Linked DNA regions of Homo sapiens: all the other regions are linked to region 1. Evidence: fine-mapped expression QTL. A gene starts in region 1. Each other region holds a variant in brackets. All regions are shown on one strand. Distances are from middle to middle.

Region 1 (10,659 bases):
AGTTTAACAAATAAATGAATAAAAGGGATATATTCAGATTCTGTAAGTACAGGAACCAAAATACAAGGGGGCTGGGCATGACGTCTCATGCCCGTAATCCCAGTACTTTGAGAGGCCAAGGTGGGCGGATGGCTTGAACCCAGGTGTTTGAGACCAGCCTGGGCAACATGGTGAAACCTTGTCTCTACAAAAAATACAAAAAACTAGCCAGGCATGGTGACACGTGCCTGTAGTCCTAGCTACTTGGGAAGCTGAGGTGGGAGGATCACCTGAGCCCAGGAGGTTGAGACTACAGGGAGACAAAATCGCACTTCTACACTCCAGCCTGGGTGACAGAGTGAGACCCTGTATCAAAAAAAGAAAAAAAATCAACAGAACTAGAAGAGGATAGTGTGATTCTGTGAGTGGAGAAAAGGATACTTCTTTATTTAGGTGGGGTGGGGCTAGATGAGGACCCAGTTTGTGGGGATCTGGGATAAAGCTCTGAGCAGGAAGAAAAGCAAGTGCAAGGCCCTAACGCCAGCACAGAAGGAGGCTAGAGGGATGTGAGTACATGAGATTGTTTAAGGGAAGGATGTGTCTGCCTTGTTCTGTGCTCCTGGACCCTAGATAGGTGCTGGTCACTGGAGAGATGCCTAAGAAGTTGTGTTGAATGAGAGAAAAGGGAGAGGCCAGCTGGAGGTGGGCACATGGTGATAGTGCTCTAAGTGTGAAGAGAAGCCACCAGGGCTTTTTACGCAGGGGAGCCGATGACTTAACTTACACTTTTGACAAAGCCCTCCGGACTGTGGCTATGGAGAGCAGTGGGGAGGCTGCCACTGTCATTCTGATGAGTGGTGATGATGACTTGGGCAAGGAGCAAATCTAGAGTATGTTTTAAAGTTAGAACCTTCAGAATTGCTGACCAACTGGATGTAGGGACCATATCACCAGCTTCCTTATGGATCTCTCCACCTATCCCACACATGGCTGTCTGGAAGCCCTTTTATCTTCCTCAAAAAATCAAAATGGCCTGATTGCTGTTTTCGGATTTTTCAGGTAGTACACAACCATTTAACAGATCAAAACACATGCACACATTCAGGTAAGACATAAAATCCAACAGAAAAAGAACAAAAGAAAAATCCTACAGTCAATCTTAGAGTGTATTCTACCAGACTTTACAACAGATATGGCACACACAAATACACATTCACATATATAATATTTCCAAACAAAACCCAGATGACACAAAATTTTATAACATGCTTTTGTCATCCAATATATCATGCATATCTCCAGATCACAGAGACCCAACCCTGTTAACTCTCCAGGGAGTCAAATACATTCCCTATTTCGACATGGGTGAGAGAGAGCACCAAAAGAGTAATGACACTAGGGGTGAAAGATGCCCCTCTTCGTGTTCCAGCAGCCCCTCCCGGTACCCTATCACAGCACGAACCACACTAGGTGGGCCCTGTTGCCTCTGTCTCTTGTTAGCACACTTAAGTCCTCAGGAGCTGGGCTGGAGCTGGTTTCTCTGTGTCACCAGTGCCCAACACAGGGTAGAGCCTATGGGAGGTCCCAAGGGAAGAATGGACTCTCAATCAAACCTGGGCCAAACCCTCTACTGACTAACGGAGGGCCCAAGAGCTGGTGACATAACCTCCTCCTCTCACCTGAGAAACAGAGATCTGGAAACCTGCCTTGTACAGTAGTAAAGAGGTCTCAAAATGACAATGTATATAATGCCTGCAGAACACATCGGGAGCTCAATAGGTGCTAGTTACATTATAAATCACTACATGTTTTGAGAAAAAAAGTCGGTGAATGAATGAATACATTAAGAAATAAGTAGGCAAATGAGAGTGAATGTGTGAGAAATGAAAGAAATAGGTAAATAAAGGTGAACAAGTGGACAAAAAAGGGCAAAAGGGGGTAAGGAGGCAGATGAATGAGCAGTGTGTGTGAGTGACAGCGGGAGGAAATCCCTGAAAGCTGGTGAAGGCGTAGCTGGGAAAATGAAGGCACAAAGAAGTGGGAACGAGCGACTGAGGGTGAGAATACCATGCCCCCCCTCCCCTACTCACATACTGATTGTCCTCCATCTCCTGCAGAGCCTTAATCTCCCGCAGGGCCTGGTTAGGGAAGCCGTCCTCCAACCGCCTTAGGGCCACCTTCTTGAGGGCAACTATCTCGCCAGTCTGCAGGATAGAAGGCAGACACTGCCAGCCCACCCTCGGCTGGGAAAGAGAGATGAAGGTGGGTGAGGGGAAGGTGGTTGAGAGAGAGACACGCGCCCCCGGCTCGGCCAGAGGCCCTCCTCGGGGGTCTAGGACTAGCCTGGGACCCAGCCGCTGGGGTAGGGGACCAAGCCAGCTGTGCGGAGGGAAGCGCAACGGCCCAAAGTAGGTTTAGAATATGAGTAGGTTTTAAAAACTGTACTGGATGTAAAAAGGGAACCGAAACAGTTTAGAGCGTTAGCCGGAGGGTGGCGGGGGCACACCCCCGCCAGGCTGCCGGCCGCGGTCCAGCCTCACCTCCACGTGCTTGGCCTTGAAGACGATGCCGTGGGCGCCCTCCCCGATGCGGCCCAGGATGCAGTACTGGTCCATCCCGCTGCAGTCGTGGGCCTGTGCCCCTGTGCCCCTGAACTTCCAAACTCCACTTCTCCTCCACCCCACGCTGATCTGAGCTCGCACGCTGTTGCCTAGCAACAGCGCGGCAGCTGACCACTGGGGCGGTTCCTGTAGGCGACGTCACCAGGAGAACGGAAGCTGCGTCGAGTCAGGGGTGACAGCTCCGGGCCCCACTGCGCCTTTTCCTAGCCCTCCGCTGTCACGCAGCAGCAAGCTTAATCCCGCATAAAAAACGCATGCGCCGAGAGCGTGCCCGCAGCAGGGCCCACGGAACGATGACAGCAGGCACCTCCTATCTGCCCCCGCCCCCGGCGTCACGTGACTAGCTGCGCTGGTGCACGCAGCCGGGAGGGGCGGGCTCCTTCCCCTGGCAAGCCGGAAGCTCCGCACCTGTAAGTAGAGGTTCAGGCTTCGACCACGCGCAGGTGCTGTTTTCTAGCTCCGAAAGCCAGGCACTATTGATGCAGACAGACAGGTCCCGGGCTGCGTTGTGGAAAGAGGGTCTGTGGGTCCTCTTGTCTTAAAATGTCAGTTGGCTACGTGTACCCACAGATTTTTAAAAGGGCATACTCTGAGGGCCGGGCACGGTGGCTCACGCCTGTAATCCCAGCGCTTTGGGAGGCTGAGGCGGGCGGATCATCAGGTCAGGAGTTCGAGACCAGCCTGACCAACATGGTGAAACCCCGTCTCTATTGAAAATACAAAAAAAATTAGCCGGGCGTGGTGGCGTGCTCCTGTAATCCCAGCTACTCAGGAGGCTGAGGCAGAAGAATCGCTTGAACCCGGGAGGCAGAGGTTACAGTGAGCCGAGATTGCGCCACCGTACTCCAGCCTGGGTGACAGAGCGAGACTCTGTCTCAAAAACTAAAACTAAAAATAAAATAAAAGGGCATACTCTGACCCAGACAGGACAGAGTAGGCCTTAAACTTCTGAAAGGATGCTCAACTTCACATACAATAAACAAATGCAAACTAAAGTTACAGTTTTTCACATATTGGATGGCTAAAGATCTCAGGTCTAATAGTTCATTGACCAAGCTACGGGAAAACAAGCACTTTCATACATTGCTGGTGGCAGTATAATTTGACGATGTTGATCAAATCACAAATGCACAGACCCTCAGACTCAGCAAAGCCACTTCTAGCAATTTCCCCAATAGACACCTTTTACACATGTGAAATGACATGTACAAAGTTATTCCATTGCAACGTTGTTTCAACGGCAAACTATTGGAAACAACACAGATGTCCATCATTGTGGTGCCTCCTTCAAATGAGGTATTAAATCTTTTTATGTACAGCAATGGGAAGATTTCTAAAATAGGTTGTTAAATGAAAAAGGCAAGATGCAGGACAGAATGCATAGAGTACCACTGGCTGTGTAAACAAAAGGAGAAAAGAATATAAATAATGCTTGTACATCCATTACAAGATATCTGGAAAGATACACAAGATTTCCTGAGTGTGGTTACCTGGTGGAAGAGGGACTGGGAGGACAGGGGGACAGAATAGGAGGCAGACTTTTCACTGGGTCTCTTTACATTATTTGAGTTTTGAATATAATTTATTAATTTTCCAAAAAAGCAAATATTTTCTAGCTTAGAAATTTCACTTCTGGGTTAATAATTGCAGAAGAATGACTTGATGTCCATACAAAGTATTCCTCCTGTTTGATGATAGCAGAGATCTGAAAACAACCCAAATACCCAGATGGAAAAATGGCTAAGTTAAGTTAAGGGAGTGCCATAGAATGGAATAGTTTTTAGCATTAAAACTGGCGAAGATAGGCTGGGCATGGTGGCTCAGGCCTGTAATCCCAGCACTTTGGGAGGCCGAGTCCTACGGATCACTTGAGATCAGGAGTTTGAGACCAGCCTGGCCAACATGGCGAAACTCCCTGCCTGTACGAAAAATACAAAAATTAGCCGGGCATGGTGGCACTCGGCCTGTAGTCCCAGCTACTCAGGAGGCCGACGCGGGAGAATCGTTTGAATGGAGGAGGCGGAGGTTGCAGTGAGCCGAGATTGTGCCAAGGCACTCCACCCTGGGCGACAGAGCAAAACTTGGTCTCAAAAAAAACAAACAAAAAAAAAAAGATACAGTAGGGAAAGGATGGTCTTCACAAATAGTGCTGGGTCATTTGAGAAGTCATAAGGGGAAAATAATGTATATTGACCCCAGTCTCACACCATTCACAAAATTGATTCCAGATGGACTGCAATCTAAATATAAAAGGTAAATAATGAAGCTTTTAGAAGAAAATTATATCTTAATGGCTTTGGATTAATTCAAGATCCTTAGGTTACAGAATACACTAAAAGAAAAACAAAAATGAGAAATTGGCCTTCATCAATGCTAAGAATATCTATTCATCAAAAGATACCATTAGAGACCAGGCACAGTGGCTCACACCTGTAATCCCAACGCTTTAGGAGGCCAACATGGGAGAATCAGTTGAGGTCAGGAGTTCGTGACCAGCCCGGCCAACATGGTGAAACCCTGTCTCTGCTAAAAATACAAAAATTAGCCAGGCATGGTGGCATGCACCTGTCATCCCAGCTACTCAGGAGGCTGAGGCAGGAGAGTTGTTTGAATCCAGGAGGTGGAGGTTGCCGTGAACCAAGATCACGCCACTGCACTCAAGCCTGGGTGACAGAGTGAGACTCCATCTCAAATTAAAAAAAAAAAAAAAAAGATACCATTAGAGAGTGAACAAGAAAGCCACAGAAAGGCAAAAGAGAACTGTAATACATATATCTGACAAAGGACTCACATGTAGAATTTATAGAGAACTTTTATTATAACACTGAAGAAGAAGCAGACAATCTTACAAAAAAAAAATTAGAAAAACCTGGAATAGACACTTCGCAAAAGGTGATTCCTGAACAGCCAATAAATTTTGCAATATGTGTGTTTAACTTCCCTGACTAGAAGGGAATTTCATATTAAAACCACAACAGAGTGTTATTGTAATCACTAGAATAGTTTAAATGAAAAAGATAGATAATACCAAATGCTAGCAAAGAGCAACTTGAACTCTCATACACTGCTGCTAAGAGTGCAAGTTCATACAACCCCTTGGAAAAACTGGCACTTTTTTCCACAGGCACGTACCACCACGCCTGTAGAGGCAGGGTCTCTCTATGTTGCCCAGGCTGATCCTGGGCTTGAGGGATCCTCCCACTTTGGCCTCCCAGAGTACTGGACTTACAGGCCTGAGCCACCACACACGGCTCCACTTTGTCAAGTTTTACTAGCTAGTTTGAGGTTCAAGAAAAGTTTCAAAGCAAATGCCTTTTTATTGGACTAGTGACTTTTTTCTTTTTTTTCTTTTTTTTTTTTTTTTTGCCAAATCAATAACTGCATAATGACTTTTACATGACTAAATTTTACTTATCTTCCCACACATAAGACTGTCGTACAATTATCAAATGCTTTATGAAGCACCATTTTGTGCATAACATCACAGCACAAAGACTAGTATGATTATGGTAATGGGAGTTATTTCACTATTCTCTTCAAGAAATGGTAAAAGGAGACGATAATCTCAATTGATGCAGAAAAAGCATTTGACAAAATTCAACACTCTTTAATGAAGAAAGCACTCAACAAACTATAAATACAAGAAAACCACCTCAACATAATACAGGCCATGCAGGAAAAGCCCACAGTTAACATTACATTCAATGGTGAAAGATTGAAAGCTTTCCCTCTAAGATCAAGAACAAGTCAAGGATCCTCACTTTTGCCGCTTTTATTTTATATAATACTGGAAGTCCTAGCCAAAGCAATTAGAAAAATAAATAAATAAATACATAAATAGGCCGGGCACAGCGGCTCATGCCTGTAATCCCAGCACTTTGGGAGGCTGAGGCAGGTGGATTACCTGAGGTCAGGAGTTCAAGACCAGCCTGGCCAACATGGCGAAACCCCATTTCTACTGAAAATACAAAAATTAGCCGGGCATGGTGGCACGCACCTGTAGTCCCAGCTACTTGGGAGGCTGAGGCAAGAGAATCGCTTGAACCCGGGAGGCGGAGGTTGCAGTGAGCCGAGATCGCACCACTGCACTCCAGCCTGGGTGACAGAGTGAGACTCCGTCTAATAAATAAATAAATGAATGTAGGTAAATAAATAAATAGCATCCAAATTGGAAAGAAAAAACTATCTCTGTCTAGAGACAACATGATAATATATGTAGAAAATCCTAAATATGCCACAAAAAACTGTTAAAACTAATAAACAAGATAAACAGAGTAGCAAGATTCAAAATCAATATGCAAAAATCAATAGTTTCTATATACTAACAATGAGCACTCTGAAACAGAAATTAAGAAAATAATTCCATTTACAATAATATCAAAAAGAATAAAATACTTAGGAGTAAATAAGGAAGCAAAAGACTCATAGGTTGAAAACTAAAAAATGTTGCTGAAAGAAAGACACAAATAAATAGACATCTTGTGTTCATGGACTGAAGGACTTAATATTTTGAATATGTCAATACTACTGAAAACAATTTAAAGGTTTAATGGAATCTCCATGGGATTTCTTTTTTGCAGAATTAGAAAAAAAAATTATTCAGAAACCAATGTGGATTCTCAAGAGGCCCTAAATAGCCAAAACCAATCTTAAAAAAGGAGGAGGTCTTACTCGTCCAGATTTTAAAGCTTACCACAAGCTATAGTAATCAAAAAAGTGTGGTACTGACATAAAGGCAGACAGCCCAATGGAATAGAATGGAGAGCCTAGAAGTAAATCTTCACATACCTGATCAAATGATTTTTAAAAAAATTATGAAGACCATTCAATGGGGAAAGGACAGTCTCTTTAACTAATGATGGTGAGAAAGCTAGAGCTCTACATGCAAGAAAATGAAAAAATTGACCCCTTATATCATATGGAAAAACTAACTCAAAATGGATTAAAGACCCAAATTTACACCAGGTGCACTGGCTTACACCTGTAATCTCAGCACTTTGGGAGGCTGAGGCAGGATCACTTGAGGCCAAGGCCCGCGGATCACTTGAGGTCAGGAGTTCGAGACCAGCCTGGCCAACATGGTGAAACCCTGTCTCTACTGAAAATACAAAAAAATGAGCTGGGCATTGGGGCATATGCCTGTAATCCCAGCTACTCAGGAGGCTGAGGCAGGAGAATCACTTGAAACCAGGAGGTGGAGGTTGCAGTGAGCTGAGGTCACGCCACTGAACTCCAGCGTGGGCAACAGAGGGAGGCTCTGTTTCAAAAAAAAAAAAAAAAAAGAAAACCTAAATGAAAGAGCTAAAACTATAAAACTCTTAGAGGAGAACATAAGGACATAAGGGAAAAGCTTCATAATATTGGGTTTGACAGTGACTTCTTTTTTTTTTTTTAAGACACAGTCTCACTCTGTTGCCAGGCTGGAGTACAATGGCATGATCTCGGCTCACTGCAACCTCTGCCTCCCAGATTCAAGCAATTCTCCTGTATCAGCCTCCCAAGTACCTGGGACTACAGGCGCATGCCACCACGCCCAACTAATTTTTGTATTTTTAGTAGAGACAGGGTTTCACCATGTTGGCCAGGATGGTCTCGATCTCTTGACCTCATGATTTGCCTGCCTCGGCCTCCCAACGTGCTGGGATTACAGGCATGAGCCACCGCACCTGGCCTGACAGTGACTTCTTCATGTAACACTAAAAACATAGGCAACAAATGTAATAATAGCCAGGGTAATTAGGCAAGAGAAAGAAAGGGTATCAAAATTGGAAAGCAGAAAGTCAAATTGTCCCTATTTGCAGATGGCATGATCTTATATATGGAAAAACCTAAAGGTTCTACCAAAAAACTCTTAGAACTGATACATTTAGTTAAGTTTTAGGATACAAAATCAACATATAAGTATCAGTAGTGTTCCTATATTTGAACAATAAACTAGCTGAAAAAGAAAGGCAATCACATTTACAATAGCTACAAAAAATAAAAAATAATAAAATACCTAGGTATAAATCCAACCAGGGAGGTGAAAGACCTCCACAAGGAAACTAAAAAACAGTGATAAAAGAAATGGAAGAGTATACAAATAAATGGAAAGACATCCCATGCTCATGGAGTACAAGAATTAATATTGTTAAAATGACCATACTGTGCCGGGCATGGTGGCTCACACCTGTAATCCCAGCACTTTGGGAGGCCGAAGCAGGTGGATCATCTGAGGTCAGGAGTTTGAGACCAGCCTGGCCAACATGCGAAACCCTGTCTCTACTAAAAATACAGAAAATAGCCGGGCACGGTGGCAGGCAGCTCTAATCCCAGCTACTCGGGAGGCTGAGGCAGGAGAATAGCTTGAACCAGGGAGGCAGAGGTTGCAGTGAGCCGAGATTGCACCATTGCACTCCAGCCTGGGTGACAGAGTGAGACTCTGTCTCAAAAAAAAAAAAAAAAAAAAAAAAAAAAATGACCATACTACCCAAAGCAATCTACAGATTCAATGCAATCCCTATCAAAATGCCAATGACATTCTTCACAGAAATAGAAAAAAAGATTTAAAAACAATGTGGAGACACAAAAGATTCTGAATAGCCAAAGCAATCCTATGCAAAAAGAACGAAACTGAAGGCATCACACTACCTGACTTCAAAATCTACTACAAAGTTGTAGTAACACAAACTGCATAGTACTGACCTTAAAACAGACACGTGGGCCAATGGAACAGAATAGAGAACCCAGAAATTAATCCACATATATATAGCAAACTGATTGTTGACAAAGGCACCAAGAACACTTACTGAGGAAAAGACAATGTCTTCAACAAATAGTGCTGGGAAAATTGGATATCCATATGCAGAAAAATGAAATTAGACCTCCACCTCTCACCTTATACAAAAATCAACCCAAAATGGATCAAAGACCTAAAAGTAACACAAAAAACTATAAAACTACTAGTAGAAAACATAGGGGAAGTGCTTCAGGATATTGGTCTGGGAAAAGACTTTATGAGTAAGACCTCAAAAACACAGCCACAAAGGCAAAAATAAACACATGGGATTATATCAAACTAAAAAGCTTATGCACAGCAAAAGAAATAACACAGTGAACAGACAACCTGCAGAATCTGAGAAAATATCTGCAAGCCATTCATCCAACAGGGGATTAATATCCAGAATACACAAGGAACTCAAACATCTCAACAGTCAAAACAAAACAAAAACGACAATTCAGTTTAAGAATGGGCAAATGATCTAGATAAGACATTTCTCAAAAGACGACATACAAATGGCCAAGAAACATATGAAAAAGTACTCAATGATGCTAATTGTCAGAAATGCAAATCAAAACTACAATAAGGTATAATCTCATCCCAGTTAGGATGGCTAAAATAACAAATCCTGGCAAGGATGCGGAGAAAAGAAAACTCTAATATGCTGTTGATGAAAACGTAAATTAGTACAGCCACTGTGGAGAACAGTATGGACATTCATCACAAAACTGCAACTAGAACTACCATAAGATCCAGTGCTGTCACTACTGGATATTTATCCAAAGGAAAGGAAATCAGTATGTTGAGGAGACATCTTCATCCCCATGTTTATTGCAGCACAGCACTATTCATAACAGCCAAGATATGGAATCAACCCAGGTGTCCAACAATAGATGAATGAATTTTTTAATGTGGTATATATATATAATGGAATATTATTCAGCCTCAGAGAGAATGAAATCCTGTCATTCACTGCAACATAGATGGAACTGGAGGATAGTATGTTAAGTGAAATAAACCAGGAACAGAAAGTGAAACATCACATATTCTCACATGTGGAAGCCAAGAAAAGTTAATCTCAGAGAAGTAAAAAGTAGAACAGAACATACTTGTAGTGGAGAAGGGGGGGTACATAGTGAGAGATTTGTTAAAGGATACAAAATTACAACTAGTTAGATAAAAGGAATAAGTTCTAGTGTTCTGTAGCACTGTGGTATGACTATATATTAGTTAACAATAATATATAGTTTCAAATAAGTAGAAGGAGGATATTGAATGTTTCCAACACAAATAAATGAT
Region 2 (10,659 bases), 55 kb after region 1:
GCTCTGTTAGGACACACACTCCCAAAGAATTGCTTTTAGACCTTGGTCCTAAATGATTTTTCCTTTAAAAAGCTGGTATTCTTATTTTTATTTATTTATTTTTTTGAGACGGAGTCTCGCTCTATTGCCCAGGCCGGAGTGCAGTGGCACAGTCTCGGCTCAGTGCAACCTCTGCCTCCCAGGTTCAACAGATTCTCCTGCCTCAGCCTCTCGAGTAGCTGGGACTACAGGTGCCCACCACCACGCCTGGCTCATTTGTTTTTTTTTTTTGTATTTTGTTGTAGAGATGGGGTTTCACTGTGTTAGCCAGGATGGTCTCGATCTCCTGACCTCATGGTCCACCTGCCTCGGCCTCCCAAAGTGCTGGGATTACAGGTGTGAGCCACCGCGCCTGGGTCCTAGCTTGCTCTTTTATGTGGGCAGCAATGTGCCTGGAACCCTCCTCACCTCTTATTGACATCCTTGTCCTTGCAGGAGGACTCTAACCTTAAATTGTTATCACCCAACCTTGTCTGTGACATCCAGATTCCAAAAGTAATAAAATTTTAAATGAAATAAACTGGTAATGAATAAAGCAGTCATGAACTGTCTTTATCAAATAAAGGACCTTTTGGTACCAAAGTGATTCATACATACAAAAAAAGTCTAGGAATATAAGAGTCTTACTGCCAAGCACAGTGGCTCATGCCTGTAATTCCAGCACTTTGGGAGGCCAAAGCGGGTGGATCACCTGACGGTGGGAGTTTGAGACCAGTCTCTACTAAAAATACAAAATTAGCCGGTGTGGTGGCACATGCCTTGTAATCCCAGCTACTCAGGAGGCTGAGGCAGGAGAATCACTTGAACCCAGGAGGAGGAGGTTGCAGTGAGCCGAGATCTTGCCATTGCACTCCAGCCTGGGCAACAAGAGCGAAACTCCATCTCAAAAAAAAAAAAAAGGTCTTACTTTTGCATTCTTGTTCTTACATTTTGTCTGTCAAAGTCAATAGAGGATCCATTTACTTGTGAAATTAGTTTCCTAACCATATGCCATCCTTCCTCCTAACTCCGTAATTTTCTTTTTCTTTTTTTTTTTTGAGATGGAGTCTCACTCAGCTGCCCAGGCTGGAGTGCGGTGGCGTGATCTCAGCTCGCCGCAACCAACATCTCCCAGGTTCAAGAGATTCTCCCGTCTCAGCCTCTCAAGTAGCTGGGAATACAGGCACCCGCCATCATGCCCGGCTAATTTTTGTATTTTAGTAGAGTCAGGGTTTCACCATGTTGACCAGGCTGGTCTTGAACTCCTTACCTCAGGTGATCCACCCACCTCGGCCTCCCAAAGTGCTGGGATTACAGGCATGAACCACAGCGCTCGGCCCTAACACCGTAATTTTTGCATGGTACAATGTAAGCTATTTCTGCTTAAAACTAAAATATGCTTGTAATTGACAGCAAGATAAGCATAAGGTTTTGCATGACTCAGCCAGGTTAATCAAAGAGGATGGTTGCTATTTTGGGAGAAAGGAAGTTAATTAAATATGTAACTAATTTTATATTAGAGAAAACTAATATAATTAAACTGCAGTTTTGAGTGGTATGAGTCAGTATGATGATTAAGAGTGGGAGTCATGAAAAAATACAGTATTTATTAACTATCGGGGGATTGACATATGAAGTCTTCAAAAAGTTTGGGATGGGCTTGGTTATGTGTAATCGTCATGAATTTTTTGTTCAAGTATTTAAAATGTTCAGTGAAAGCTATATAACTACATTACAAACTTTATTTGTGATTTCTAGCAATCTTCCAAGTGAGGTGGAGAAATTAAAGATCTAGAATGCACCTCTGTTGGCCGGAAGCAGTGGCTCTTGCCTGGAATCCCAGCACTTTGGGAGGCCGAGGCAGGCAGATCACGAGATCAAGAGATCGGGACCATCCCGGCCAACATGGTGAAACACTGTCTCTACTAAAAATAAAAAATTAGCTGGGCACGGTGGCGGGTGCCTGTAATCCCAGCTACTCGGGAGGCTGAGGCAAGAGAATCGCTTGAACCCAGGAGGCGGAGGTTGCAGTGAGCCGAGATAGCACCACTGCACTCCAGCCTGGCAACAGAGTGAGACTCCATCTGAAAAAAAAAAAAAAAAAGAGAACCTCTGTGTGGAGGAAAACAATTCTATTAGAGGAAATAAAAGGCACAGGGAGGGCACAGGGAGGAATGTCATATTATTTTGGTACAAGCAGATTTCCAAATACTTAATTAGCAAAAAGTGTTTATCAGAAATCTTGTTTTCTTCTGTATGTTTCATCACACTTTAAATTAGCAAAGAATATTGCCTTTCATCAACATCAAGATGAGGAGAGATAAATTCTGCGTGTTGCAAGGAAGAAGAAAAATAATGAGTAAGGAAGGAGCTCATTGTAAGGATGATTCTTGGCAGAAGCAAGTGGTAGCTCACAGAGGGTGGTGGTAGTGAGAAAATGGTTCCTGTCCTCCACCCCAGGGCTCAACCTTCAGATTTGTGCTTATGTCTGGTCTCCAGCCAGGGGCAGAGAAGAACTGAAGGATAAAACAGGAAAACCTATTGAGAGGGGCAACTGAGATCCTCAATCATAGGTTACTGTAAGGTGAAAATTGCCTGCTCTTTCTTTCTTTCGTTTTTTTCTTTGAGCAGAGTTGCTCTGTCACCCAGGCTGGAGTGCAGTGGCACCATCTCGGCTCACTGCAACCTCTGCCTCCCAGATTCCAGCTATTCTCCTGCCTCAGCCTACTGAGTAGCTGAGACTACAGGTGCCCGCCACCACGCCCAGCTAATTTTTGTATTTTTAATAGAGATGGGGTTTCACCATGTTGGCCAGGCTGGTCTTGAACTCCTGACCTCATGATCTGCCCACCTCGGCCTCCCAAAGTGCTGGGATTACAGGCATGAGCCACCATACCCAGCCTGCCTGCTCTTTCAAATGGAATCCTACAGTTGTCACATCTGGGGTACGTGCACTATTGTCTTTATTGTAAAGGAAAACTGGCATTTACATGGTGTCTCAGTTTGCTTGGGCTATTGTAACAAAGTACAGCAGGTCCTAGAATAAGGTCATTTTGTTTTTATTTATTTTGAGACAGGGTCTTGCTCTGTTGCCCAGACTGAAGTGCAGTGGCACAATCATGGCTCAAGTGATCTTCCTCCGTCTCAGCCTCCCAAGCAGCTGGGACAACAGGCCCCTGCCACTATTTCTGGCTAATTTTTAAAAAATATTTTTTGTAGAGACTGGAGTCTTCCTGTGTTGCCCAGTCTGGTCTCAAACTCCTGTGCTGAAGCGATCCTACTGCCTCAGCCTCCCAAAGTGCTAGGATTATATCCATGAGCCACCTCCCCTGGCCTCAACAGGTCTTTATTATAAGGTCGATGAGAAAAGAATAATCCTCACCTGGGGCCACTACCTGTGTTGGAGTCTGTCTGCATGTTCTCCCCATGTCTGTGTGGGTTTTTTCTGGGTGCTCTCGTTTCCTCCTTGATCCCATGATTGTGCCCATTAGGTGAACTGATGTGTCTACGTGGTCCCAAGGTGAGTGAGGGTGGGCATGTGTGTGAGTGCGCCCTGCAAAGGGAGAAGCGTGCTGTAGGAACTTAACTCTTGTTTATATCAATTAGCCTATTGATTAGAAAATTGATTTTGTTATACATCATTTCACTTAAAGTTAGTTTCCAAGAACTTACTGACAATGTTAAGTGAGGGCTTTCTGTATCACAGACTGGACAGCTTAAACAACAGAAATTTGTTTTCCCACAATTCTGGAGCCCGGAAGTCTGAGATCAAGGCATCTGCGGTGTTGTTCTTTCCTGAGTCCTCTCTCCTTAGCTTTGCAGATGGGCGTCCTTGCCCTGTGTCCTCATCTCCTCTTCTGATAAGGAACACCAGTCATATTGGATTAGGTTCCACCTTAAGGACCTCAGTTAACCTTAGTTACCTCTTTATTTTTTATTTTAATTAATTAATTAATTTATGTATTTATTTTGAGACAGAGTCTCACTGTGTCACCCAGGCTGGAGTGTAGTGGCTCACTGCAACCTCTCCCTCCCGGGTTTAAGCAATTCTCCTGCCTCAGCCTCCTAAGTAGCTGGGACTACAGGCATGCGCCACCACACCCAGATAATTTTTGTAGTTTTAGTACAGGCAGGGTTTCTCCATGTTGGCCAGGCTGGTTTCGAACTCCTGACCTCAGGTGATCTGCCCGCCTTGGCCTCCCAAAGTGTTGCAATTACAGGTGGGAGCCACCACGCCTGGCCTGTTATCTCTTTAAAGACCCTGCCTCCAAATACAGTCACATTCTGAGACGCTGGTGGTTGGGACTTCAACACACGAATTTCGGGTGTCCAGAGGACAGAGTATTATCTGCCATAGCAAACTGACACACACGGCTTCCAGCCAGGAGCATCTTGGAAAAGCTTTTGTCAGAAAGTGAGTCCAGGACTTGGCAACTATACCATGTGTGTCCCCTCTGAAGGGGACAAAGCCCAACCAGTTATTAACCACTCATGTGGGGTGCCTTTGGTTAATTAGAGTAAAGGGAGTCCAGTGGTAGGTGTTCTACTTCCAAGGAACAAGACACTGATAGATTTACAATGTTTAGTAACAGCTAAATCACAGATGTTGATGGGACCCTGATGTCTTTGGTTTTAAAATGGTAAATATGTTTCCTGAAGTATGAAAAACCTCCTATGTAGCAAATGCTGAGAAATACCATGGTGACAGTATTTTTGTGAGCCTGTCACCACAGACAGAGCCAGTGCAATAATGCATCAGTCCCCTTCACCAGCCTCATGCTCTTCTTTATTCTAAAGAAGTGAGCAGGGAGAGGGCCACGGTCCAGTATGGGAAAATGAGCCCTTTCAATGACAAAATTTAAATGTAATGAGCATTAAATGAGCATATTAATTCACAGGAGCAGTTGGTGCTTCTGCCTGAAAGTGGAGAAACGCATGTTTCCAGGGAAGCAGAGACACAGTGGCAGGGTGACACAGCCAGTGCTCACACAGCATCCCTCCGGTGGGCAATCCGCAGTGCAAGGCCACCACACAGCAATGCCACTCCACTGGCAGGGGCTTTGTAGCAGGGATTCTCAAAGGGCATCCTCACACAGCAGCATCGCCGTCAGCTGGAAAAGTATCAGAAATGCAGATTCTTGGCCAGGTGCCATGGACCATGCTTATAATCCCAACATTTTGGGAGGCTGAGGCGGGAGGATCACTTGAGCCCAGGAGATCGAGGCTGCAGTGAGCCGTGATTGTGCCACTGCACTCCAACCTGGGCAACGGAGCTGAGATCCTGTCTCAAAAAATGCAGATTCTTGGGCCCCATCCCAGATCCACTGAATCAAGAACTCTGGGTGTGGGCACAGCAATCAGTATTTGAACCTCTGTGTAGGTAGAGCAAAAATGCAAGACACACAGTTACATTTCATTTTAGATAAGTGACATCATTTTTTAATATGAGTATGTCTCAATTATTGCATGGGACATGTTTAATACTAAAATGATTTGTTGTTTAACTGAAATTCACCTTTAGCTGGGGTACTGTTTTGTTTGTTTGTTTGTTTGTTTTTTAGACAGAGTCTCTCTCTTTCGCCTAGGCTGAAGTGCAGTGGCGTGATCTTGGCTCACTGCAACCTCCACCTCCCAGGTTCAAGTGATTCTCCTGCCTCAGCCTCCCGAATAGCGGGGATTACAGGCACATGCCACCACGTC[C/T]GGCTAATTTTTGTATTTTTAGTAGAGACAGGGTTTCACTATCTTGGCCAGGCTAGTCTTGAACTCCTGACCTCGTGATCCACCCACCTCGGCCTCCCAGAGTGCTGGGATTACAGGCATGAGTCACCGCGCCCGGCCTGGGGTTCTGTATTGTATCTGGCAGCTCTGCCTCCAGGGGATTCTGATTCATGCTGAAATTTGGGAACCACCGGCATGGAGGCTTTGCCTAGGTCCAAAGCCCTGTTCTGACCATTTCAATGATGAAGAAAGTGTCTGATCCTCACATTCATTTCCCTGTTACCCTCTTTACCTCCCTGTTTCCCTGTTACCCTCTTACCTCCATCCTTCTTGTCTGATTTGCTCTGTTCACTCATTTACATTTCCTGTGCCTTTTCACATTCGTGACTTCTTAGTTCTGTCTGTGATTTTATAAAGATAACTCCCAAATAAAAATTGCATGGATCTACTGTTTATTGGTTGTAGCTAACTCAGCCAGAGGTTAGACTGTGCATATTTTGACACAGCAACTTGCCCAGGTTCATAAGTGCATTTATAAGACCCTTCTGCATCAGGTTTCCTGCCTGCATATGTACATATTAAGTAGCTCTAGTTACTGAGGACTATGAACTCAAAGGAAAGGAAAACTCCATGCTTAAAAATGGTTGAAGAACATGCTCTTGCATTGATTCTGGGTTGGACTCAGCTACATGGAACTGTTGATGTTTAAAGAACCTTAAATGTGGGAGGTAGAGGAAATGGTGTATTGTATTGTTTATGACAGGTAATAACGAACCACCAAGGTTAATTGGATGATTGACTGAGGTATTCGTTGGCCAAGGGCCTAAGAGCATTATGTAGTATTTTGCCAGCATGTTATACAGAGAAATGGAGATTAAGTATTCTCTATTCTTGGCTGGATATGGTGGCTCACGCCTATAATCCCAGCACTTTGGGAGGCTGAAGCAGGTAGATTGAGCTGAGGAGTTTGAGACCAGCTTGGTCAACATGGTGAAATGTCGTCTCTACAAAAAATACAAAAATTAGCCAGGCATGGTGGTGCACTTCTGTAGTCCCAGCTACTCAGGAGGCTAAGGTGGGAGGATGGCTTGAACCCAGGAGGTTGAGGCTGCAGTGAGCCGAGATCACACCACTGCACTTCAGCTGGGCGACAGAGTGAGACCCTGTCTCAAAAAAAAAAAATTTTTTTTCAAGTATTCTCTATTCTTGTTAATGGCACATTTAATTACAAACAGAAAACCTCAGCCCCTAATGTCTGATGAAGGCTTTTTATTTTTACTTTTTATTTTTATAAGCTCTGTTAGACTTGAGAAAGCTTTTTAAATTTTCTTTTTTTTAAGCAGAATCTGATCAAATATTCAATATAACAGGAAACAGTGCATTTTATGCTTAAGGAGAAGAAAATGTAGCACATCATGATTTAGGTTTTTAATACATTTCTATTTTGCAGATTGGGATTGAGACAGTTATGTTTGGTTTGGACAGTGACCCCAGTGTGATGATTGTCTGTGTGGCCTTAATGTTGATCAGGGTTGTTCTCATGAAAGATCACTTCAAGATCCATACAACCAAGATTTCAGGACTGTTGGCAAAATAGGGGAAAGTAAGTCACTATGGTGACGCAGACACTCAAAAACATCTGCATCGGGAAACTACTTCATTTGGGTTTATAACGACCCCCTTTTTTTTTTTTTGAAATGGAGTTTTGCTCTTTCACCCAGGCTGGAGTGCAGTGGTGCGATCTCAGCTCACTGTAACTTCCTCCTCCCAGGTTCAAGCAATTCTCCTGCCTCAGCCTCCCAAGTTTATAGGCTCCGGCTAATTTTTGTATATATATATATATTTTTTGAGACGGAGTCTCGCTCTGTCACCCAGGCTGGAGTGCAGTGGCGCCATCTTGGCTCACTGCAAGCTCTGTCTCCCAGGTTCACGCCATTCTCCTGCCTCAGCCTCCTGAGTAGCTGGGACTACAGGCACCCGCCACCATGCCCAGCTAAATTTTTGTATTTTTAGTAGAGACATGGTTTCACCATGTTAGCCAGGATGGTCTCGATTTCCTGACCTTGTGATCTGCCCGCCTAGGCCTCCCAAAGTGCTGGGATTACAGACATGAGCCACATCGCCCGGCTGCCTAATTTTTGTATTTTTAGTAGAGACAGGGTTTCACCATGTCGGCCAGACTGGTCTCGAACTCCTGACTTCAGGTGATCCACCCACCTTGGCCTCTGAAAGTGCTGGGATTATAGGCGTGAGCCACCACAGCAGGCTATAATGACCACTTTTTACATAGTAGTCAATATAATGCATTTGATGCATATTGATTTTTATCTTGTAGAAACAGCAGTTAGACAAAAACATGGACAAATCCAATATAGTTGCAGAATAGAATGCAAGTGGGCAAGTCTCAGTGCTGTCAAAATTGGAGTGCTGCTGGCCAGAGCTAGGAGGGGCCGCTGCGCTGGCGACCGAGCAGCAGGTGCTGATGCTCTCACATAGTCCAAGGGCAAGTTCAGTTGACAAAACAAGAAATGGAGTTTTGAGATTATTATTTGAAAGTGTAAAGATAAGCAATAAAAGAATCAAAAGGAACTGAGGATTTATAGAATAGTAATAAAAGGGAAACTATAGGATTTTAAAGAAGAATCATAGAGTTAACCACCAGAAAAGTATTAACATGTGTTCCCAGCTTTGACAGAAAACTTTTTCTTTCTTTTTTTTTTTTTTTTGAGTTGGAGTTTCGCTCTTGTTGCCCAGGCTGGAGGGCAATGGCGTGATCTCGGCTCACTGCAACCTCTGCCTCCCAGGTTCAAGCGATTCCCCTGCCTCAGCCTCCCGAGTAGCTGGGATTACAGGCATGCGCCACGCCCAGCCAACTTTATATTTTTAGTAGAGATGGGATTTCTCCATGTTGGTCAGTCTGGTCTCGAACTTCCGACCTCAGGTGATCTGCCCACCTTGGCCTCCCAAAGTGTTGAGATTACAGGTGTGAGCCACTGTGCCCGGCCTAGGAAAGCTTTTCTTTACCAATAGATCTGAGTGGTGGGGAGGTGGAGAGGATGGCAATTTAATTGACAATAGAAAGAATAACAGCAGAAAAGTTCGCTTTCACTGTATTTAGGAGCACTCCAAAAGGAGTGGCTCCAGGAGCCGCCAGGGGTGAGAGTTCATACATCAGCATCGTAAAAATAGGGTGGTTAGGACTTTGGAGGGAAGTATGGAAGGTTTTCAGAGGGCTTGCTTACACAGGGTTTACTCTTGGTGTTAACAGGCACCTTGAGAGGGGATGTATGGCAGCTTCATGATCAGAAATCTCTGCCTTTAATCATATATGGGAAGCTCAAAAAAGGCCTCTAGGCTGAGTGCAGTGGCTCACCCCTGTAATCCCAGCACTTTGGGAGGCCGAGGCGGGCGGATCACTTGAGGTCAGGAGTTTGAGACCAATCTGGCCAACATGGTGAAACCCTGTCTCTACTAAAAATACAAAAATTAGCAAGGTGTGGTGGTGTGCACCTGTAATCCCAGCTACTTGGGAGGCTGAGGCAGGAGAATCGCTTGAATCCAGGAGGTGGAGGTTGCAGTGAGCTGAGATTGCACCACTGCACGCCAGCCTGGGTGATAGAGAGAGACTCCGTCTCGGAAAAAAACAAACAAACAAAAAAAGTATCTAGCTGTGTCTGCTGTATCTCAGATGTCTTCAGTCTAAAGCAGGGGTCTCCAACTCCCGGACCATGGACTGGAGCTCGTCTGTGGCCTATTAGGAACGGGGCCACACAGCAGGAGGTGAATGGTGGGTGGGTGAGCCAGCATTACCTGTCAGATCAGCAGCGGCACTAGATTCTCATAGGAGCACAAACCCTATCGTGAACTGCACATGTGAGGGATCTAGGTTGCTTGCTCCTTATGAGAATGTAACTAATGCCTGATGATCTGAGGTGGAGCAGTTTCATCCTGAAACCATCCCCCAACCCAACCCCGGGTTAAAAATTGTCTTCCACAAACCCGGTCCCTGGCGCCAAAAAGGTTGGGGACTGCTGGTCTAAAGCAATCTTTCTTGCCTCCTGGTGGGTTGTGGGTCCTTTCACTGGGAAGCTGCATTCCAGGTGGGGATGAGCAGGGCAAAGGAAATTTTCATCATAAACTTTTCTATGCAAAAGTTTACAATGTGCAATTTGATTTCCTTCCATGCCCTTAAATTACATCAATCAAAGAGAAAAGGGGAGAAGAGCCCCAGCCCAGCTTGATCCAGTGAGCTATGTTTGGAGAGGAAGCTCTGGGCAGGGGCTGGGGAAGGTGGTGTTGGATCCTGTTGGGGGACAGGCCAGGGAATCTGTGAGACAGATGATGGATGTGATGGGATGTGCCAGCAGAGGCCGGCGGGGCCAGCGCATCCCTCCTACCTTCCTCCCTTCTGTGGACACTTGGGGGAAGTCGTAGGTGACTAGTGAGTTAAAAAATGAATTACCAATGAGTAATTAGTTACTGATGAGGTTTTAAGGTTGTAATTATTAATTAATTCATGAGTTATTAGAGGAGGGTTAGCTATTAATGAGATGCTCTCTAACTCCAGTTCCTATGTTTCTGTGTTCCAGCTTCTAAAAAGAATAAACTTGGAATTAACTTTCAAATGTTATTATGCTTTAAAATTGTATCTGTCAAACCTCACAGTTACCTCAAAGTAGACATTTTTTAAAACAAGTAGAATATTCACTGTTGGAAACAAATGCTCAGTGCTACAAAGTGAAACCAGCACTCAGACAAAAGTTTTCTCAGCAAGGCAATTTACTTCTGCAGAAGGGTGCTGCCTGCATCAATCATGATCACAGGAGCACACTGAACAAAGGAAGGAAAAGGTTTTTATCCCTAACACAGTCCCTACCTCTGTGTCACTCCCCCAGGGGCTGGGGTTGGACCGCTCATTCTAAG
Region 3 (10,659 bases), 35 kb after region 1:
AACGACAGGGCCCGCACGAGCATCTGAACGCTGATGTCCCGGCCATTCCTTAGCTGGCCGGCTCACCCCCATGCCCTGCCCTCGGTGTGGTGTGGTGGGGTGGGGTGTGGGTAGGTGTTCCTTTCTGCTCTGAGAGGCTATTGCCGCTCCATTTTAAGCCACAGGATGTAAAAGGAAATTTCACATGACTTGCAGAACTGTCTGGGAAGTCCCCACCTCTCCTCATAGCAGACTCCTGCGGTAAGCCACGCTAACCTCCCTCCTCTCCAGATTCTCTTCTGCTAAAGATTTTCTTGGTTTCTTTCCTCCTCTGAGCTGGCTCACACCTTATGTGGGTGTGCTTCGAGCGCTCAGAGGTCACAGACGCTCATTCCCGCCCTTTGGCGGCGTGGTTCCGACCCCCAACTCTTCCCGCAGCCCAGCCCCTCCTGCTGGGAAGGTGAAGAGGCGTCTGGCGGGACTTCTCAAGGGATGGAAGAACCTAGAAAGGAAAAAGTAGGCCACATAGCAAGAATGCCAGGGGTGCCTCAGACGGCATAGCGGCTTCTCAGACTGATCCTGTTAAAGAACTGAAATAGCAGATGCTCCCTGAAATGTTTCAAGACCCCCAAATGTGGTGACTGTCCCTGGAGAGGTACCCAGAAGCCATTTAAATCCTTTTGCCTGGAGAATCTGCAGAGCTCACAGTGGCTCATTCTGCCTTTGGCAGAAAAATAAAATGCCTCAGGTAACAAACTGAGTCAGTTTTTACATTTTCCCTCTAGGCCCTGACTTTAGGCAGCAGCTGCCTGAAGCCGGCTCTATAATTTATTTTTATCTTGCTCCTCTGTGACATGAGACAAGAAATACACCTAAAGTCATCACCCCTAATCTGGAGTTTCGCTTTCCACAATTTCAGTTACAGGAGGTCAACCTTGGTCCAAAAATATTAAATGGAAAATTCCAGAAATAAACAGTAAGTTTTAAATTGCATTCTGTTCTGAGTGGTGGGATGAAATCTTGCCCTGTCCAGCTCTGTCCCACCCAGTACATGAATCGCCCCTTTGTCCAGCATATCCACCCTGTCTATGCTACCTTCCCATTAGTCACTTATTAGCTGTCTCAGTTATCAGATCAGGAAGAAAAGTAAGTACAGGATAAGATATTTTGAGAGACAGAGAGAGAGACCACATTTACATAACTTTTATTGCAGTATATTGTTATAATTGTTCTATTTTATTATTGTTGTTATTAATCTCTTACAGTGCCTAATTTATAAATTGAACTTTATCATAAGGCCGAGCGTGGTGGCTCATGCCTGTAATCCCAGCACTTTGGGAGGCCAAGGTGGCCAGATCACCTGAGCTCAGGAGTTCAAGACCAGCCTGGCCAACATGGTAAAACCCTGTCTCTACTAAAAATACGAAAATTAGCCAAGTGTGGTGGCACGCACCTGTAATCCCAGCTACTCAGGAGGCTGAGGCAGGAGAATTGCTTGAACCTGGAAGGCAGAGGTTGCAGTAGCCAAGATCGCACTACTGCACTCCAGCCTGGGTGACAGAGCAAGACTCTGTCTCAAAAAAAATACATAAATAAATAAACTTTATCATAGTTATGTATGCATAGAAAAAAACCCAGAGTATAATATATATAGGGTTTGTTACTATCTGAGGTTTCAGACATCCACTGGGGGGTCTTGGGGGTCTTGGAATGTGTCCCCCATGGATAAGGAGGGGGGAAACTACTGTAGTTCTCTGTATAAGTGCCTGACCAAGCATTTTACAAATAATGGTATAATTTGCTGTCAGTGCATCACATTGTGTCTGTCAAAATGTTATTTTCTTGAACTTTAAGTAACCAAAACAATCTCAAAAACAATAAGGTTGGAGGTCTCATACATCTGGATTTGAAAACTTACTGCAAAGCTACGGTAATCAAAACAGTGTGGTACTGGCATAGAAACAGCCCCATAGACTAATGGAATAGAACAGAAAGCCCAGAAATAAACCTTTATATATATGGTCAAATGATTTTTATTTTTTTTTGGAGATGGAGTCTTGCTCTGTCACCCAAGCAGGAGTGCAGTGGTATGATCTTGGCCCACTGCAACTTCCATCTCCCAGGTTTAAGTGATTCTCCTGCCTCAGCCTCCCGAGTAGCCGAAACTACAAGCACACACCACCACACCCAGCTAATTGCTGTATTTTTAGTAAAGACAGGGTGTCACCATGTTAACCAGGCTGGTCTCAAACTCCTGACCTCAGGCAATCCACCCGCCTTGGCCTCCCAAAGTGCTGGGATTACAGACGTGAGCCACCCCGCCAGGCTTTCAAATGATTTTTTTTAACAATGATACCAAGACCATTTACAGGGAAAGAATAGTTTTTTCAAAAAATAGTGTTGAAAGGCTGGATATGGTGACTCATACCTGTAATCCCAGCACTTTGGGAGGCTGAGGCAGGAGGATTGCTTGAGCCCAGGAGGTCAAGATCAGCCTGGACAATATAGTGAGGCCTCATCTCTGAAAAAATAAAAATAATAAATGTTGTAGGGAGATTGAGTCTCCACATGCAACAGAATGAAGCTGGACCCTTACCCAGTGCCATATGCAAAAATTAACTCAAAATGGATCAAAGACCTAACTATAAAAGCTAAAACTGTAAGAATCTTAGGCTGGGCACAGTGGCTCACGCCTGTGGTCCCAGCATTTTGGGAGGCCGAGGCGGGCAGATCACGAGGTCAGGAGATCAAGACCACCCTGGCTAACACGGTGAAACCTCATCTCTAATAAAAATACAAAAAAATTAGCTGGGTGTGGTGGCAGGCACCTGTAGTCCCAGCTACTCGGGAGGCTGAGGCAGGAGAATGGTATGAACACAGGAGGCGGAGCTTGCAGTGAGCCAGGATTGTGCCACTGCACTCCAGCCTGGGTAACAGAGTGAGACTCCGTCTCGAAAAAAAAAAAAAAAACTATAAGAATCTTAAAAGAAGTCTTCCTTATATCAGATTTGACAATGATTTCTTGAATGTGATACCAAAAGCATGGGCAACATAAGAAAAAATAGATAAATTGAAGTCAATAAAAATGGAAAACTTTTTCCCTGGTGGTCTAGTGGTTAGAAAACAAACAAACAAACAAGTTTAAAACTTTGTGCATTAGAGGACACAATCAGTTCAGGCGCAGTGGCTCACACCTGTAATCCCAGCACTTTGGGAAGCCAAGGCAGGAGGATCACTTGAGGTCAGGAGTTCAAGACTAGCCTGGGCAACATGGTGAAACTTCATCTCTACTAAAGATACAAAAATTAGCCAGGCATGGTGGCACACAACTGTAATCCCAGCTACTTGGGAGGCTGAGGTGGGAGAATTGCTTGAACCCAGGAGGTGGAGGTTGCAGTGAGCTAAGATCATGCCATTGCTCTCCAGCCTGGGCAACAGAGCAAGGCTCCATCCCTTACCACCAAAAATATTATTTTCTTTTATGTGATAGTGATACCAATTCCTAAAATTAATATAGGGCCACAATTATGCAGAGTTCTTGGTTGGATTTATGGATGATAAAAGTCTTTTCCCATTATGACTGACCTTTCCACTCTTTTTTTTTTTTTTTTGAGATGGAGTGTCACTCTGTCGCCCAGGCTGGAGTGCAGTGGCGCAATCTCAGCTCACTACAAGCTCTGCCTCCTGGGTTCATGCCATTTTCCTGCCTCAGCCTCCCGAGTAGCTGGGACTACAGGCGCCCACCACCACGCCTGGCTAATTGTTTGTATTTTTAGTAGATACGAGGTTTCACCATCTTGGCCAGGCTGGTCTTGAACTCCTGACCTTGTGATCCACCTGCCTCGGCCTCCCAAAATGCCGGGATTACAGGCATGAGCCACCGAGCCTGGCCCCACCTTTTCACTCTTAAATCCAGATTTTTAATGAACAGAAGTTCTTGGCCTTAATAGAGTCAAATGTTTTTAATGGAGTCATTGTTTCCCTTTGTGGCTAGTGCTTTTTATGCTGTTTGAGAGCACTGTGCTTATCTGAGGTTTTATGAAAAGGCAGTACTGAGAGTTGGCAGGTGGATCTGCTTGCCCAAGGCTGGGAGCGAGAATCAGTGTAGAGCCAGTTGGGCTTCAAGGCCTTTGCCCAAGACTTTCTAAAAGCTGCTTTAAGGTTTTACTATGTCAGGGCTACAAGTTCTGCCTTTGAAACTTTCCACATTCTCTAGCAACTTAAATTCTTTTTTTTTTTTTTTGAGACGGAGTTTTGCTCTTGTTGCCCAGTCCTTTCTTTCTGACAGATTTGATGGCAAACTCATTCCTAATTGCCTGGCTTCTTGGTAGATGAAACCCCCTTCTCTTCCCAGGGCACTAGGTCTCTCTTTGGGAATCTGCCCCTGTAGAGAGCTGCCCTGTTCACTGCAGCTCCAAAATACTGGAGAAAAACTTAAATGTCTACCAGCAGAGGGAGGAAGAGTTAAAATAGAGAAAATCCAGGAAACTGAATTCTGTGCACCCACTAAATACTGCCAATGTGCTGGCAGGAAAGGATATCCAAGAGATGAGAAAACATATTTTGCAGTCTAATAGATTTAGCATGCTTACCTTTTTGTAAAATAAATAATATACTGTGTGTATTAATATAAGAAAATTCTGGGCCAGGTGCAGTGGCTCACATCTGTAATCCCAGCACTTTGGGAGGTCGAGGCAGGCAGATAACCTGAGGTCAGGAGTTTGAGACCAGCCCGGACAACATGTCTCTACTAAACATACAAAAATTAGAGGGGCATGGTGGTGGGTGCCTGTAATCCCAGCTACTTGGGAGACTGAGGCAGGAGAATCACTTGAACCCGGGAGGTGGAGGTTGCAGTGAGCTGAGACCATGCCATTGCACTCCAACCTGGGCAACAAGAGCAAAACGCCATCTCAAAAAAAAGAAAAAGAAAAAGAAAAAAAGAAAATTCTGGGAGGACAATATGAATAGTTACCTATTGGAGGGGAGGGGTTTTCTCTTGGAAGGGCAGGTACTGAGGGCTGTGGTGAGCCGAGGGCAGATGCTTCACTTTAATTTTATATCTTTTTAAAAAATTGTGGGATTATTGTTGGTTTTAACCTTATTTGTATGCTTTATCTTCCTCTGTAATTTTCCTAGTGAAACTAATAAAACAAGGCCAAGGCAGGAGGATCTCTTGAGGCCAGGAGCTCGAGAGGAGGCTGGGCAACATAGTGCAACCCGCCTTCTCTACAAAAAAATAAACAATAATACATAATAAAACAGGGCAGGGTGTGGTAGCTCATGCCTGTAATCCCAGCACTTTGGGAGGCTGAGGCAAGTGGATCTCTTAAATCTAGGAGTTCGAGACCAGCCTGGGCAACATGGTGAAACCCTGTCTGTACTAAAAATACAAAAATTAGCTGGGTGTGGTGGCGCAGGCCTATAGTCCCAGCTACTCAGGCGGCTGAGGTGGGAAGATTGCTTGAGCTTCGGAGGCAGATGTTGCAGTGAGCTGAGATCATGCCACTGTACTCCAGCCTTGGCCACAGAGTGAGACCCCATCTCAAAAACAAACAAAAACAAAAACAAACCTCACACACTAAATAAAACAAAGTTAAGACAGGAAGGAGAGAGATTTTGTCTCAGATGTCTGCATCCTTACCTTCAGACCCAGTCTCTGACTTTGTTTTCTAGTGAGATAAAAATAAATAGGCCCCCACATGTCAGAGTTGAATGATTTCTTAGAACTCGTGATCCAGTGACCTCCTTTTTCAGGTGATGCAGGGGTGCCGGCCCTCACCTGGAACCTGCAGTTCAGGTTAAAATGTTGGCTTTGCCACTTGTGGGTAAGGTCCCCTTTAGGGAAGTGATTTTCCATCTCCTAGCCTTCACCCCTGCAAACCCAGCTCCATGGTAATTGTAACAGTTTTCTGACTGCTAACAACCTACAGAAAAGAAGCTGGAGAAAAGTC[A/G]CAACAAACAGGAGACAAGTGCAGTCCTCCTGTCTGGAGGTGTTAAAATATTCGGGCGGTGCTCAAAGGGCACCAGTGACATTTGTTTGCATCTCAATGGCATTTAAGGATAATCTATGCTGAGCAGCTTATTTCATCAAGCAGGAAGTGAGACCCAGAAAGCAAAGTCTTTTGCCAAAGAGTTCCTTAGGCAGGGACAGGTTCCAGGACAAAGGAGAGAGTGAAAGCTGCAGGAAGCTTGTCCTTCTCTCCACTAAGGAGACAATTCACAATCCCCAAAATGTGTCTCCTTTCTGGGAACTCTTTATCTCTGCACCTTGAAAGCTATCATCTCTCCAGGTGTTCTGGGCTCTGGTAGCCTTTTCTAGATAGGTGGGGAAGAGGTAGAGAACTTAGGCCAAGACTTGTCAAGAGTTTCCAAGGGCAATTTGGGGAAAAGATGAGAGGAGGACATGAACATCTGTTCCCAGCTGGGCTCATTGACTCAATCCTGTAATCTTAGCACTTTGGGAAGCCAAGGCGGGAGGTTTGCCTTGCAGTCAGGAGTTCGAGACCAGCCTGGGCAACATAGCGAGACCCCCACCCTCCCTGCCACCATCTCTACTAAAAAAGAAAAAAGAAAATAGACATCTGTCCCTAGGTGGAGGAGGGTTGGTGTTTCTCTTAGGAATACCTGTTTCCATGGAAACATAGGGATGACACCAGTCCCCAGGCCTGAGTTGGCAGCACAGCTCTACCGCACAACCATGCGGGCTGAGAGCAGTTTCAGTGTCCACCCTCCTGGAGCCGTGCTGCTCAGGAGAAATATAATGTCAGCCACATATGTAACATTACGTTTACACTAATAACATTCAACTAAAAAGAACCAGGTGAAATTGATTTTAATAATACATTTCATTTTACCCAATATGTCAAAAATGTTATTTTCACATGTAATGCATATAAAAATCACTGAGATAGGTCACATTCTGTTTTCCATGGTAAATCTCCAAAATCTGGTGTGTGTCCTGTCGTCTACTCACAGCACAACTCAATTCGGCCTCGCCATGTTCAGGTGCACAATCATTGTGTGTGGACCAGGGCTGCTGTCCTGGATAGCACAGGACAAGTGAACACGAACACCCTCCCTGCCCTTCTCCTCCCACACCTGCTAGTCTGTAAGAGGAGGAAGCAGCCCTTCTCGGGTTCAGTGTGGTAGTTCATGGTGGCTGAGACGGGCCAGAATCCCAGGGCTGCTCTGAGAGAGGAGCTCAGTCTGTGCTCTGGCCTTCTCTCTCAAAGAAATGGAGATAGGCCCAGCACTTTGGGAGGCTGAGGCAGGAGGATTGCTTGAGCCCAGGAGTTCAAAATCAGCCTGGGGAGCATAGTGAGACTTTGTCTCTAGAAAACAACAACAACAACAAAAATTATCCAAGTATGGTAGCACATGCCTGCAGTCGAGGCTGCTCAGAAGGCTGAGATGAAAGGATTGCTTGAGCCCCAGAGGTTGAGACTACAGTAAGCTGTGATCACACCACTGTACTCCAGCCTGGGTGACAGAGAAGACCCTGTCTCAAAAAAAAAAAGAAAAGAAAAGAAAAGAAAGAAAAGGGATAAAAGGATTAGGGGAGATTGTGAGGACTAATTAATACACATGAGGACTTAGGGTAGGACTTGGCCTAAAGGAAAGAGCAAAATACACCAACACTTGTGCTCCACATGGTCTTGTTTTGTCCCGCCAAGCACACAGCTAGAGTTGCCTCAAAATGCTGGCAGGGAAATTGCCAGAAGGGAGTGCCCCATACCATCCCAAGATGGGGTTGGTTGGGATTCCAAAGAAAGAAGCACTAGCCAGGCGCAGTGGCTCATGCCTGTAATCCCAGCACTTTGGGAGGCCGAGGCGGGTGGATCACAAGGTCAGGAGTTCGAGACCAGCCTGGCCAACATGGTGAAACCCCATCTCTACTAAAAATAGAAAAATTAGCCGGGCATGGTGGCGCACGCCTGTAGTCCCAGCTACTTGGGAGGCTGAGACAGGAGAATAGTTTGAACCTGGGAGGCGGAGGTTGCAGTGAGCTGAGATCGTGCCATTGCACTCCAGCCTGGGGACAAGAGTGAAACTAAGTCTTAAAAAAAAAAAAAAAAAAAAAAAAAAAAAAAAAGCACTAACACCAGTAACACCAGGGTGATGAATCCAGAGCATTTATTAGGGAACCTACATACAGAGGCTGCAGCAACCCACTCGAGGGACAGCGAGAGACAAGCATCTTCTCCCTAGGTATGTCTGCAGTAGGGGGACCAGGGTTTATAGATGTCAGGGTTGAAGGAATTTAGCTGAGGGTCAGGGCCAGTTTCTTTCTGTGTTTTTGGCAAACAACCTAGGTATCTTTATCAATGCTGAGGCCCAGCTTTGGGTCAAGCCTGCAGGGAAAAACCTGTAGCTGACTGCATCACAGAGTGGTTAAGGCACTGTGTGATTTTTGATCAAGAATGTTAGGGGAGCCAGAGATCACCTCCAGCCCCACTTTTAGCTCTCAGTGGTCTCTTCAACTGGATCTAGAAACCAAATGATACCAGGTAGATTTTTTTTTAAAGCAAATCATTTTTATTTTTATTTTTAAAAACTTATTTATTTATTCATGTATTTAGAGACGGGGTTTCACTGTTTCCTGGGCTGGAGAGCAGTGGTGCAATCACAGCTCACTGCAGCTTTGACTTTCTGGGCTCAAGTGATCCTCCCACTTCAACTTCCTGAATAGCTGGGACCACAGGCACCTACCATGCCAATCTAATTCTTCTTTTTTTAGACGAAGTCTCACTCTGTCATCCAGGCTGGAGTACAGTGGTGCAATTTTGGCTTACTGCATTCTCTGCCTCCCGGGTTCAAGCGATTCTCCTGCCTCAGCCTCCTGAGTAGCTGGGATTACAGGCGAGCTCCACCACGCCTGGCTAATTTTTGTATTTTTAGTAGAGACAGGGTTTCACCACGTTGGTCAGGTTGGTCTCGAACTCCTAACTTTGTGATCCGCCTGCCTCAGCCTCCCAAAGTGCTGAGATTACAGATGTGAGCCACCATGCCCAACCTCTGTAGTGAGTCTCAACAGAGCAGAGTTCATTGCACAGCATTGGATGACCCAGCCCCTACCCCCGATTTTACTTGAGAATGAATTTGGGGCCGGGTGTGGTGGCTCAAACCTGTAATCCCCTTTCCCAGCCCCAGCCCGGCCCTTGCAGCTGCAGAGATGTTGATGCCTAAGAAGAACCGGATTGCCATTTATGAACTCCTTTTTAAGGAGGGAGTCATGGTGGCCAAGAAGGATGTCCACATGCCTAAGCACCCGGAGCTGGCAGACAAGAATGTGCCCAACCTTCATGTCATGAAGGCCATGCAGTTTCTCAAGTCCCGAGGCTATGTGAAGGAACAGTTTGCCTGGAGACATTTCTACTGGTATCTTACCAATGAGGGTATCCAGTATCTCCGTGATTACCTTCATCTGCCCCCAGAGATTGTGCCTGCCACCCTATGCCGTAGCCGTCCAGAGACTGGCAGGCCTCGGCCTAAAGGTCTGGAGATTGAGCGACCTACGAGACTCGCAAGAGGGGAAGCTGACAGAGATACCCACAGATGAGTGCTGTGCCACCTGGTGCCGGCAAGAAAGCTGAGGCTGGGGCTGGGTCAGCAACCGAATTCCAGTTTAGAGGCGGATTTGGTCATGGACGTGGTCAGCCACCTCAGTAAAATTGGAGAGGATTCTTTTGCATTGAATAAACTTACAGCCAAAAATCCTTAAAACAAACAAACAAACAAACAAACCTGTAATCCCAGCACTTTGGGAGGCCGAGGCGGGCAGATCACGAGGTCAGGAGTTCGAGACCAGCCTGACCAACATGGTGAAATCCCCATCTCTACTAAAAATACAAAAATTAGCTGGGCATGCTGGCATGCGCCTGTAATCCCAGCTACTCAGGAGGCTGAGGCAGAAGCATCCCTTGAACCCGGGAGGCAGAGGTTGCAGTGAGCCGAGATTGCACCACTGCACTCCAGCCTGGGTGACGGAGCGAGACTCCATCTCAAAAAAATAAATAAATAAATAAAAGAATGACTTTAGGAGAGTTTGGCCAATACCACTAATAAGAATAGTTGTTGCTATCAGTTGAACAAAAACGAAAGAATCTTGCCAGTCCAACATTTAATTTCCTTCCCTCTTTCCCAACACTCCTCCTCCTCCCATTCTCTCTTCTGGAAATCCTGTCATAACATTGGAATCCATGAACTTAATCTCTGATTTTAACATTTTCATTTTCATCTCTGTACTTTTGCTCCACCTTCTGAGAGATTTCCCCAACTTGCTCTTCCAACTATTCTACTAAGTTTTTAATTACTCACCTTTTGTTTTTCCTCTGTTCTGAATGCTCTTTTTAACAGCAACCTCTTTGTTTTTCATAGTTATATATTCATATGCATACTCTAAATAGGCATAGATAGATGTGTAATATCATCAAAGAAATTCTAAATATGTGAACATGATAATACATTTCCATAGTTTTGTTCCTCCAACTTGCTTCTGTCTCTGCTTGTTTTGGCCCATATCTTCCATTTTAGAGGCTTTGTCTGGTAAATCTTGGTTGTCTGCTCAGGGTTTTTTCTTTTTTGGGGGATAGGGTCTCACTCTGTTGGTCAGTCTGGAGTGCAATGGTGCAACCAAAGCTTATTGTAGCCTCCATGGTTTCTTGGGCTTAAGTGATC

Evidence for each region. PIP is the estimated chance that this variant, and not a neighbour inherited with it, causes the effect.
Region 2: its variant is the best candidate, but not a certain one, in a credible set for the expression of CDK20 in pancreas (GTEx, PIP 0.82).
Region 3: its variant is the best candidate, but not a certain one, in a credible set for the expression of CDK20 in transverse colon (CEDAR, PIP 0.58).

Annotation. Positions count from the first base shown.
Region 1 is chr9:87,971,853-87,982,511 of GRCh38, forward strand. CDK20 (cyclin dependent kinase 20) reads right to left here and starts at 2,681. Exons shown (of 8, transcript NM_001039803.3): 1 at 2,520-2,681; 2 at 2,070-2,183. The coding sequence starts at 2,594. LOC105376131 (a long non-coding RNA gene) reads left to right here and starts at 2,783. Exons shown (of 3, transcript XR_930088.2): 1 at 2,783-3,010.
Region 2 is chr9:88,026,971-88,037,629 of GRCh38, forward strand. LOC124902201 (syncytin-A-like) reads right to left here. Exons shown (of 7, transcript XM_047424307.1): 7 at 10,498-10,659. Among named protein-coding and RNA genes, the nearest start is that of LINC03026, 46 kb to the right of the region's middle. The variant C/T (reference allele first, on the strand shown) is at 5,719.
Region 3 is chr9:88,007,146-88,017,804 of GRCh38, forward strand. It overlaps the pseudogene RPS10P3. Among named protein-coding and RNA genes, the nearest start is that of CDK20, 38 kb to the left of the region's middle. The variant A/G (reference allele first, on the strand shown) is at 5,934.